Regions from separate parts of the Homo sapiens genome. Here region 1 is linked to region 2. The links come from fine-mapping of genetic effects on gene expression. A gene starts in region 2. The other region holds a variant in brackets. All regions are shown on one strand. Distances are from middle to middle.

Region 1 (5,379 bases), 100 kb before region 2:
CTCCCTTCCCATCCACCACCAACCACCACAATAAAGAGAAATACAAGGTCAAAAAGAAAAGCAAAGGATAATTTTGTTGGCCGGGTGCAGTGGCTTACGCCTGTAATCCCAGCATTTTGGGAAGCCGAGGCGGGTGGATCACTGGAGGTCAGGAGTTGGAGACCAGCCTTGCCCACATGGTGAAACCCCATCTCTACTAAAAAGACAAAAAAATTAGCCAGGCGTGGTGACACGCGCCTGTAATCCCAGCTACTCGGGAGGCTGAGGCAGGAGAATCGCTTGAACCCAGGAGGTGGAGTGAGTGAGCTGAGATTGTGCCACTGCACTCCAGCCTGGGAGACAGAGCAAGACTCTGTCTCAAAAAAAAAAAAAAAAAAAAATCCATGTCCTGTTTCTAGAAAATGTCCAAATGATGTACAAGTAGCATATAGCAAAATAAAAGATAACTGATGTATTTTAATAAGAGTGCTGATTAATTCACATGCAGCTCTATCCTGTTTGGCAGAAAGATTTTTCAGGGATGATTTCATAAAAAGTAAACATAATTTATAGGCGTATGGTGCCAAGTGCTAGGAGCCAAGGTTCAGAGCCTCAGCTCTCCTTCCAGGCAGTCAGTGGGGCTCCTCCTGACTCCAGCCCAGATGGCTCTGCCTTTAGTGCATCCCTTTGAGCTACTGACCTCAGCAACAACTCAATCAGTGCCATAGCTAGCAGGCATTTGTCTTCTTCCCTCAGTGAGTGGATCCATTCATGGTGGCTTGTACTAGCCTGATGAAACCAGTTAACCTTGTCATAAAGGCAGAGTAAAATGACCTCTTCTCCCCCTAGCCTGCCCCAAACCTGCAGATAAAAGGCATTCCCCCTGGCAAATAGCCAAAGGAAGCAGAGATACAGAGAGCTTGTGGCAAATATGAATGGAGATGCTACGTTCCAGAGACTTTTCTCTAAGAAGTTAGAAACCATTTCATTACCTCCATCACTTACAAACAAGGCATCAAATCAGCAAACGTCAAACTCCTTGTCTTAGGTATCATGTTAATATTTAATTACACATGAAAGATGGAGATCATTAAGTCCTTGCATTGGCCAGTGTGTACACTAAAGTGAAGAATAAACTATGGAGGAGAACACAGTTTGGGGTGTGGCTCTCACATCATTGGTAATCAGTAGACAATAAAAGTATGTTCTTAGATACATGCTTTATTGTGCCCTAAGTTGTAAGTAAGGTGCTAATTTTTTTTTCCTTTTACATAGGCACAACCTCTTTGGTCTCTGCCTCTTTTCATGGCACAGACACCAAAAGGTAAGTAAGTGGCAGCCTGAAAACTGGCTTTATGCTGACCAGGTGTGAGATTCTCCAAGCAGTAGGGGCTAAGGCTGGGGAGTAGGAGTAATGCATGCACCCCAGATGCAGGCAACAAGGTGGGACATTGTCTAGCCCTGCACTGTCCAATATGGTAGCCACTAGCCAGGTGTGGCTATTTAAATTTTTCTTTTCTTAATTTTATTTTTGATTCAGAGGGTACATGTGTAGGTTTGTTACCTGGGTATATTGTGTGATGCTGAGGTTTATGGTACAGATGATCTCATCACCCAGGTCATGAGCATAGTACCCAATAGGTAGTTTTTCAGCCCACATCCCCTTCCCTCCTTTCCCGCTCTAGTAGTCTCCAGTGTCTGCTGTTCCCATCTTTACTTCCATGTGTACTCAGTGTTTAGCTCCCACTTCTTAGTGAGAAGCAGTATTTGGTTTTCCACTCCTGCATTAATTCACTTAGGATAATGGCCTCCAGCTGCATCCATGTTGCTGCAAAGGACATGATTTTGTTCTTTTTATGGCTACAGAGCATTCCATGGGGTATATGTACCATATTTTCTTTATGTGTCCACTGCTGATGGGCACTTAGATTATTTCATGTCTTTGCTAGAATGAATAGCACTGTGATGAACATATAAGTACATGTGTCTTTTTGGTAGAACAATCTATTTTCACTTAGGTATGTACATACTTAGTAATGGGATTGCTGGGTTGAATGATATTAATAGTTCTAAGTTCTTTGAGAAATCTCCAAACTGCTTTCCACAGTGGCTGTACTAATTTACATTCCCACAAATAAGGTATAAGCATTTTCTTTTCTCTACAGCTTTGCCAGCTTCTGCTCATTTTTAATTTTAAAAATTGCCATTTAGACTGATGTGAGATGGTATCTCATTGTGGTTTTGATTTGCATTTATCTGATGATTAGTGACAACAAGCATTTTTCCACGTTTGTTGGCCATGCATATGACTTCTTTTGAGCAGTGTCTGTTCATGTCCTTTGCCCATGTTAAAATTCTGCCCAAAGCAATTTATAGATTCAATGCCATTTCTATCAAAATACCAATGTCATTTTTCATAAAAACAGAAAAAACTATCCTAAAATTTATAGGAAACCAAAAAAGAGCCCAAGTAGCCAAAGCAATCCTAAGCAAAAAGAACAAAGCCAGAGGCATCACATTACCTGACATTAAACTATAGTATAAGGCTACAGTAACCAAAACAGCATGATACTGGTACAAAAGCAGACACACAGACTAATGTAACAGAATACAGAACCCACAAATAAGGCTGCACACCTACAACCATCTGATCTTCAACAAAGGTGACAAAAATAAGCAATGGGGAAAGCACTCCCTATTTAATAAAGGATGCTGGGATAACTGACTCGCTATATGTAGAAGAATGAAACTGGACCCCTACCTTTCACCATATGCAAAAATTAACTCAAGATGGATTAAGATTTAAATGTAAGACCTCGAACTATAAAAATACTGAAAGAAAAACCTAGGAAATACCCTCTTGGCATAAGCTTTGCTAGAGAATTTGGCTAGGTCCCCAAATGCAATTGCAGCAAAAACAAAAATTAACAAGTGGAACCTAATTAAACTAAAGAGCTTCTGCACAGTGAAAGAAATTATCCATAGAGTAAACAGATAACCTATAGAATGGGAGAAAATATTTGGAAACTATGCATCTGACAAAGGTCTAAAATCCAAAATCTACAAGAAATTTTTAAAAAATCAACAAGACAAAAACAAATAATTCAATTTTTTACATGGGTAAAATTATTTTTTAATTTTTTTTTTTTTTTTTT[A/TA]GAGACAGGGTCTTGCTCTGTCACCCAGGCTGAAATGCAGTGGTGTGATCACAGCTCATTGCAGTCTTGAACTCCTGGGCTCAAGTGATCCTCCCACCTCAGCCTCCTAAGTAGCTGGGAGTACAGACACACACCACCACGCCTGGCTTATTTTTGTTTTTCGTAGAGACAAGGTCTCGCTAAGTTGCCCCAGGCTGGTCTTTAACTCTTGGCCTCAAGTAATCCTCCTGCCCCAGCCTCCCAAGTAGTTAGGACTGACTACAGGCATGGGCCACCATACCCGGCTTAAATTTAAACTTATGAAAAAATTTTTAATTAAAATTTAAGTTCCACAGTCTAACTGCATTTAGAGTGCTCATTAGTCACAAGTGGCTAGTGTCCAATGTACTGGACAGTGAGATGTAAAATATTTGCAACACTGCAAAAAATTCTATTGGACAGTGCTGGTCTAGATAGTTTTAAAACAAATAATAAAGTCATTATGGTTTTTATTGTCCACATGCACTGTAATTTTAAACAATGTTAGTGATAAAATACCAACATCCTTCCTGCCCCCATTGACCCTCTCCATATGCCACTGTCCAAATAAACCTGCCTACTGAGACAGAGGATAACTAATCCAAGGGCAAACTAAAGCCTCAGTTGCATCCCTGCTCAAATGAATGCTAAAAATGAAAACAACAAGAAACCGGTGTATATTTCATTCCCTTTTTCTGTCCCTAACAGAGGTACCCTAAAGAAAGTCTATAGGTGATTCTATGAAAATCTAGAGAGAAAACTGATAAAGAATTTTAAATCACCAAACTCCATATACCCCCTTAAAATTTCACATAACACACATACAAAGGGGGCGGGCAGTGGAGGGCAGAGCACACCATTCTTCACCTCTCAACTGTATCTGTTCACATGGGAGGGAAAAGGCAACTCTGGCCTCAGACTCCCATTCTGGTAAAGTCCACTTCCCAAATACAAGCCTAAAATAGAACCAGCTTCTTTATTCCGAAAACGAATGGAAAAACGGGGCCGTGGAGAGCTGTTCAGCTCTCTATTACGGTCCACGCATTAAACTTTAACACAGCTATAGTCTTTTTCCTAGCACGAGTATTAGAAATGCACACAATGTTTCTAATTTCAATTCCCATCATATTCTGCAATGCTTTCAGAGGGTTCTGAATTTTTTATTTCTCATTGGGTCATGCCTTCCTGGCCACTGCTAGCTCCACCTGCTAACACATACCTCCCCACCCCCCACAGGCCACCCCAGGGAATGAGGATCAGAGCAAGGACTTCCTGCTTCCTACTCAATATTCTGCGGGCATTTTCTCCCAGGTACACGGGTTACCCAATTAAACACCACATTCCTGGAAGGAGATCTTGGCTCTTATCATTTCTGTGAATGCTTCATAGCTAAAAAACCAAACACTAGAAGATAAAATGAGAGCAGACAACAAAAATAACACTTGGCAATCTAGTATAGAAAGATGGGTCGTTCCCGGCAAGGGACCTTCCAGATATCCAAAAGGTAATAGTTTATGCCCCCAAAGTGTTACGCTGTAGTCCGCTGACATTATGTAGGAAAGCCGCAGGGTCACCCTGTCTCAGGACTGTTGCATGTGCTGCTCCTTCTCCCTGGAGTGCTCTTCCCATCCCACTTCACCTCATTACACCCTTTTCCTTAGCTCAGCTTCTCTTCCTCAGGGAAGAGTTCCTGTACCCTGCATGAATCTAGGTTCACACTCCTCTGACACTTTGTACTTACATTTCATGGCACTTATCACAGGTTATAATTAATACTTATTTGTAGAATTATTTCAAAAATGTCTGCCTGATCCCAAGTCCGAAGACTCAGTGAGGAGAGGGTCTGTGTCAGTTTTGTTCATCATGGTATCCCAAATGCCTAGTGCGTGGCATAGTAGGTAAATGATAATATTTGATAGGTGAAAAAATTGATTAGTGAATGAATAAACATCTTCTGAGAACCAAGGAACTATGTTCTTATACTGACATAACTTTAGCTTCAAATATAGATGGACCATGCATGGGTTTTATTAATTAAAAGAAATAAAGAGATATTCCGTTTTACTCTTTGAAACTAGCCGCTGGCATCAGACTGTTCTTTTGATGAATGGTGAAGGGAGAATCAACTAACAACCACCTCTGAAGTGGGATGCGATGATACCTTGCTTAAAGATTAAGAAGGCACAAGTCCAAACAGCCTTCTGCAAACACATTTTCTCCAATTCTA
Region 2 (5,379 bases):
GAGCCCAAGCGTTTGAGGTTGTAGTAAGCTATAATAGTGCCACTGCACTCCAGCCTGGGTGACAGAGCAAGACCCCATCTCTAAAACAAACAAACCATAAATGCATAAATTTAAAATAAATGTGAAGTCAACCAACTATTTTAAAATAAAATAAAATGTGTGACTCCTGATAATCTATGCTGTCCTGACCATAAAACAGGAAGTTAACATTTTAGAACCCCTAAAATAAAATGCCATTCAAACACAGCCACATTTCAGTGAAACCAGCCACATTTTAAAGGAATCAGAAAATCCCTTTCCATTACAATGCAACTAGAAGGCCTGCATAAGTGGAGGGCCCTTCTAACAGAATTCCACAGTTCCCCAACCCAGAATTCCCGAATTATTTACACTTTCCCATAATTAACACCCTTATCTTTTTTAATATGCAGGTTTGGTTGTTTTAACTGAAAGCATATAACTTAAATAGTGAACCAAAATAACCCAAACTCTTATTCAGCACATCTCACAGAATACACATTTTCAATATTCCAGATTAGCAGGATGGAGAGTTCAGGAGAGAGATCAAAATTTAAATCTGTCAGTGACGACCACACACAGCAGCAGACTGCAAGGTTCTTCTCAATAATGCAAAACATCTTTCATCTATGAATTTTCCCAGTTTTCATGAATTTAAATATCTACAGAAATGTTATAAAAGCTTTAAAATTCCTAAATCCCAGTGCTACTCTATTCCCTATTATTCCAGGACCATTTCCAAAACCAAAGCTACCAGAACAGCTTAGAAATCATTAGGCGGGGTTGAAAAATAGACTCTTAGATTTAAATATACGGTTTTGGTGGGTTTGGTTGTTTCTTTAGGGTTTTTTGTTGTTTTTGTTTTGTTTTGTTTTTTGTTTTGGGGTTTTGTTTGTTTGTTGTTTTTTGAGACAGAGTCTCGCTCTGTCGCCCAGGCTGGAGGTTACTGGCACAATCTCGGCTCACTGCAACCTCTGCCTCCCGGGTTCAAGCGATTCTCCTACCTCAGCCTCCCGAGTAGCTGGGATTATAGGCACCAACCACCGCTCCCGGCTAATTTTTGTATTTGTAGTAGAGATAGGGTTTCTCTATGTTGGCCAGGCTGGTCTCGAACTCCTGGCCTCAGGTGATCTGCCCGCCTTGGCCTCCCAAAGAGCTGGGATTACAGGTGTGAGCCACAGCCCCCGGCCTGTTTTGTTTTTAATTCATACTTTTGTGGACACAAGAACGCATATTTGGTGCAGACTGGCTCCAAGGACAGGATATCTGAAATTATTTGAACTGAAACAATATAGTTGTGCCAATAAAGACAGAAAAGACTAAAGACAATATAAAGCTTGTCATTTAAATGTTTTTTAAAAAATATCTTTCGTACCGTGGTTTTCTTAAAACGACTACTTTATCTACACTAATCATCTGGACCTCTGATGCCCAACCGAGACGAAAGTGCTGAGTGATGACCAGGGGTCGGGTAGCTTGGTCCACAAGAAAAAGAGAAATGTTTTCATCTTGAATTCTTTAGATCCCGACCCCTCCGCGCAGAGTTCAGCGGGCGAGGGCGAGGGGCGTCCTGGGCAGGGGGCGCCCCTCATCCAGCCTAGGCTCCAGTCACGTACGTGCACGCAACTGTCAAAGCTCAGCCCAAGGAGCAACTCTCCGCATCTGTGCATTTCATCCTGAGTCAAGCCCCATAAAAATTGGAATACGTAAAAATGGGCAAAAATTGAACATTTAAAATACAGCAGTGAAAAGGGAGGAGTGCCTGCTCCGGAAATGCTCTAAGCGTGGTTCATCAACACTCCCTGAAGAGCGGACCACGGAGATGCTCCGAGGCTCCGCCATCCCGCACGCAGGACAAAGGTGCTGAGAATGAGGCGCGCTGGTCCTGCACCCTCTGCCGAGAGCCGGAAGCCAGGGGCGCGCCGGGGCCGGTCGGGCACGTGCAGGGGGCTCTCCGGCCGCCGCGCTGCCCCGAAGCCGGCCCTGGGGACTCGCGGCTGCGCGGACCGAGCTCGCGAAGGGGACCAGGCTCGCGGAGGGGCCGCAGCGGCCCCAAGGATGGCGCAGGAAGACCCCCCACGCAAGACAGCCGGTCGCGGGGGTCAGGGGCGGCTCCTCCCGGGCCCGGCCCCGCCCGACTGACCTGTGACGCTGGCCCGGGTGACGCGCTGCACCACGGCCTTCATGGCGGCGGCTGGGGCGAGTGGGGCGGCGCCGCGCTGCGTCCGGCCTCGCGACTCTGAGGGCGGCTCCGCAGCCGGCGCCCTCTGGAGGTGACACCCGGAAGCGCGCCCAACTGGCCGGTCCGACTCGGTCGGCTGCTACCCACCCCACGTCGGCCACGCCCACTCTCGGCCTGGCGATAGGCCCACCCACTCATAGATTGACTCCGCCTATGCCTGCCACGCCCACCTGCTGCCCAACCGTAACCCCGCCCGTCATTGAAAAGCCCAGTCCCCACGCTCGGCCCTGCCCCATCCACATCTGGGTCCCGCCAGAGCCCTTTGATCCCCCCATCCCGGGCCCAGCCCCTACCCAGTGCCCAGAACCCACTCTGCCCCGAAGGTAGTCTCTATGCTGGTTTTTTTCTCCCACATACCCGAACCTAAGAACCCGTCATCACTAAGCCTTTAAATTCAGCCTGAATCCTATTTCTAATTGTATTCCTCTTTCCTCTTCCACTCCTCTGCACGCAGATCCTCCCAAATTCTTCTTCCTTGTCTTCCTGCCTCAGTGGCTTTTCAGATACCACATACAAAAGGATCTGCTGCCTAAAATAGCCATTTACCTATCTCACTATTAATTCGACTTAGCCATGTCATGATAATAAATAGGTATGTGATTCTAGAATTCTAATTTCTCATGTAATATAAATGCTACTAATTGGCCCCCTCACTGGGTTGTTAGATTTAAATGAACCAAACCACGTAAAAGTGCTTAGATGGCAGCAAAGGGCTGTACAACTATTACCCCAACAAATTATTATCATTGCTAAAAATAATTCCATCTCAGCAGTCTTCACCTTAAAGGTGACTAATAGCATTGGTGGGCGTAGAAAAGGCACTGAAATTGAGAAGAAACCCTCACTTGCCCAGAAAAGACTACAAACTAGTGTGCTTGTTTGTTAAATACTGAATACTAAATTGCCTTAATAACGTTGTCAAAGTTAACATAACCAGTAACAAGACATCATGTGCCTCCTGATATTGCACTGGGAAGGACACAACATCAATCTTGTGGTATTTCTGCCAAATAATGTATAACCTGAATCCAATCATGATGAAACATAGGACAAAAATAAATTGAGGAACATTCTACAAAATAACCAGGTAGGATTCCGAGAATTAAGGAGGATTTTTTTTTTTTTTTTTTTTGAGATGCAGTTTTGCTCTTGTGGCCCAGGCTGAAGTGCAATGGTGTGATCTTGGCTATCCACAACTTCTGCCTCCTGGGTTCAAGCAATTCTTCTGCCTCAACCTCCTGAGTAGCTGGGATTACAAGCATGCGCCGCCACGCCCGGCTAATTTTGTATTTTTATTAAAGATGAGATTTCTCCATGTTGGTCAGGCTGGTCTCGAACTCCCGACCTCAGGTGATCTGCCCGCTTTGGCCTCCCAAAGTGCTGGGATTACAGGCATGAGCCACTGCGCCCAGCCGTGGACTTTTTAAAAGACAGGAAAACTACCTGTAATCCCAGCACTTTGGGAGGTCAAGGTGGGCGGATCATTGGAGGTCAGGAGTTCGAGGCCTGCCTGGCCAACATGGTGAAACCCCGTCTCTACTAAAAATACAAAAATTAGCCAGGCATGGCAGCGCATGCCTGTAATCCCAGCTACTCGGGAGGCTGAGGCAAGAAAATTGCTTGAACCCGGGAGGCGGAGGTTACGGTGAGCCGATATCGTGCCACTGCACTCCAGCCTGGGTGACAAAGCAAGACTCTGTCTCAAAAAAAAAAAAAAAAAAAAAAAAGACAGGAAAACTAAATTAACCTGGGTGGTATCCTGGCCAGAAAAATCAAGAAAAGGAAAAGCTTATTATTGGAACAACTGGTAAAATTTGAGTTTTTGAAAAATCAGCAGGTCTCAATATTTTGATCACAGGATCCCTTTACATTCTTAAAAATTATTGGGCACAAAGTATAGCTTTTGTTTAGGTGGATTATATCTAAAAATGTTTACTGTTTTTAACTAAGAGAAATAGTTAACATGGATTTATCAATGCATTTAAAAATAGCAATAATAAATCCCCTACATATGAATATCAGAGCAATGAAGTCACTATATGTCACGGAGCCCCTGGAAAACTCCATTGTGCACTCCTGAAAGAATAAGACTAAAAAAGGGAAAATTGGGCTGGTCGTGGTGGTTCACGCCTGTAATTCCAGCACTTTGGGAGGCTGAGGCAGGTGGATCACTTGAGGTCAGGAGTTCAAGACCAGCCTGGCCAACATGGTGAAACCCCATCTCTACTAAAAATACAAAAATTAGCCAGGCGTGATGGTGGGCACCTATAATCCCAGCTACTTGGGAGGCTGAGGCACAGGAATCACTTGAAACCGAGAGGCGGAGGTTGCAGTGAGCCAGGATCACTGCCACTGCACTCCAGCCTGGGTGACAAAGTAAACCTGTGTCTCAAAAAAAAAAAAAAAAGTTAACATACTTAAAATGGAATTCAAAATGTTCACCCCTATGGTACAATAAAGACTTTGGCCTTTGTTAATTCTGGGTTTCTGGCATGGAGCTTTAAAAATTCTTGGAATTTCTCAAGAGACAGGAGTATCTTTGTTATTCATGAGCTCCTTGATTATTCCTGAGTTTACTAACAAGACAATTCAGATTGGGAGCTGGTCACTGGAAAGACCAATAGTGACTGGATGTCTGAGCCAGCCCAACCTGTGGGAGGGGTAGAAGACAGAGATTGAGTTCAACCTGTGGCCAATGATTCAATCAGTCATGCTTACATGATGAAATCCCAGGAAAGACTCTGGACATTGAAGCTTCATTGAGCTTCCTGGTTGCTGAACACATTGATGTGCTGGGAGGGTAATGGCCCTGATTCCGCAGGGAGAAAGCACAGAGGCTCTGTGTTTGGTACTCTCGCAGACCTTGCCTAACATATCTCATTTGACTGGTCCTAATTTGTATTATTTATAATAAAACTATAAATGATAATTACAGCACTTTCCTCAGTTCCATGAGTGATTCTAGTGCATTATCAACCCTAGGGAGTCATGGATACTCCTGACTGTGTAGCCAGTTGGTCTGAAGTGCAAGTGGTTTGGGGACACCCAAGTGTGGTTGGCACCTGAAATAGGGGCAATCTTTTTGGGAAACGTACCCTTAAACTTGCAGGATCTGTTCT

Alleles and levels. Alleles are on the strand shown, and positions count from the first base shown. SD is a standard deviation of normalised expression in the study named.
For the expression in subcutaneous fat of the gene that starts at base 2,223 in region 2, allele A in region 1 goes with a higher level than allele TA (small effect, 0.25 SD a copy in FUSION).

The links. PIP is the estimated chance that this variant, and not a neighbour inherited with it, causes the effect. A credible set is the group of variants that fine-mapping cannot tell apart.
Region 1: its variant is the best candidate, but not a certain one, in a credible set for the expression of DTD1 in subcutaneous fat (FUSION, PIP 0.59).

What each region holds. Positions count from the first base shown.
Region 1 is chr20:18,687,892-18,693,270 of GRCh38, reverse strand. All of the region lies in intron 4 of DTD1 (D-aminoacyl-tRNA deacylase 1), which reads right to left. It overlaps DTD1-AS1 (DTD1 antisense RNA 1), which reads left to right. Exons shown (of 4, transcript NR_109955.1): 2 at 1,255-1,303. Among named protein-coding and RNA genes, the nearest start is that of DTD1-AS1, 8.1 kb to the left of the region's middle. The variant A/TA (reference allele first, on the strand shown) is at 3,135.
Region 2 is chr20:18,584,898-18,590,276 of GRCh38, reverse strand. It overlaps DTD1 (D-aminoacyl-tRNA deacylase 1), which reads right to left and starts at 2,223. Exons shown (of 6, transcript NM_080820.6): 1 at 2,162-2,223. The coding sequence starts at 2,204. It overlaps LOC124904878 (a long non-coding RNA gene), which reads left to right and starts at 2,812. Exons shown (of 3, transcript XR_007067547.1): 1 at 2,812-2,852. RefSeq lists enhancers at 1,687-1,746, 1,587-2,086, 4,758-5,052 and a silencer at 1,857-2,396.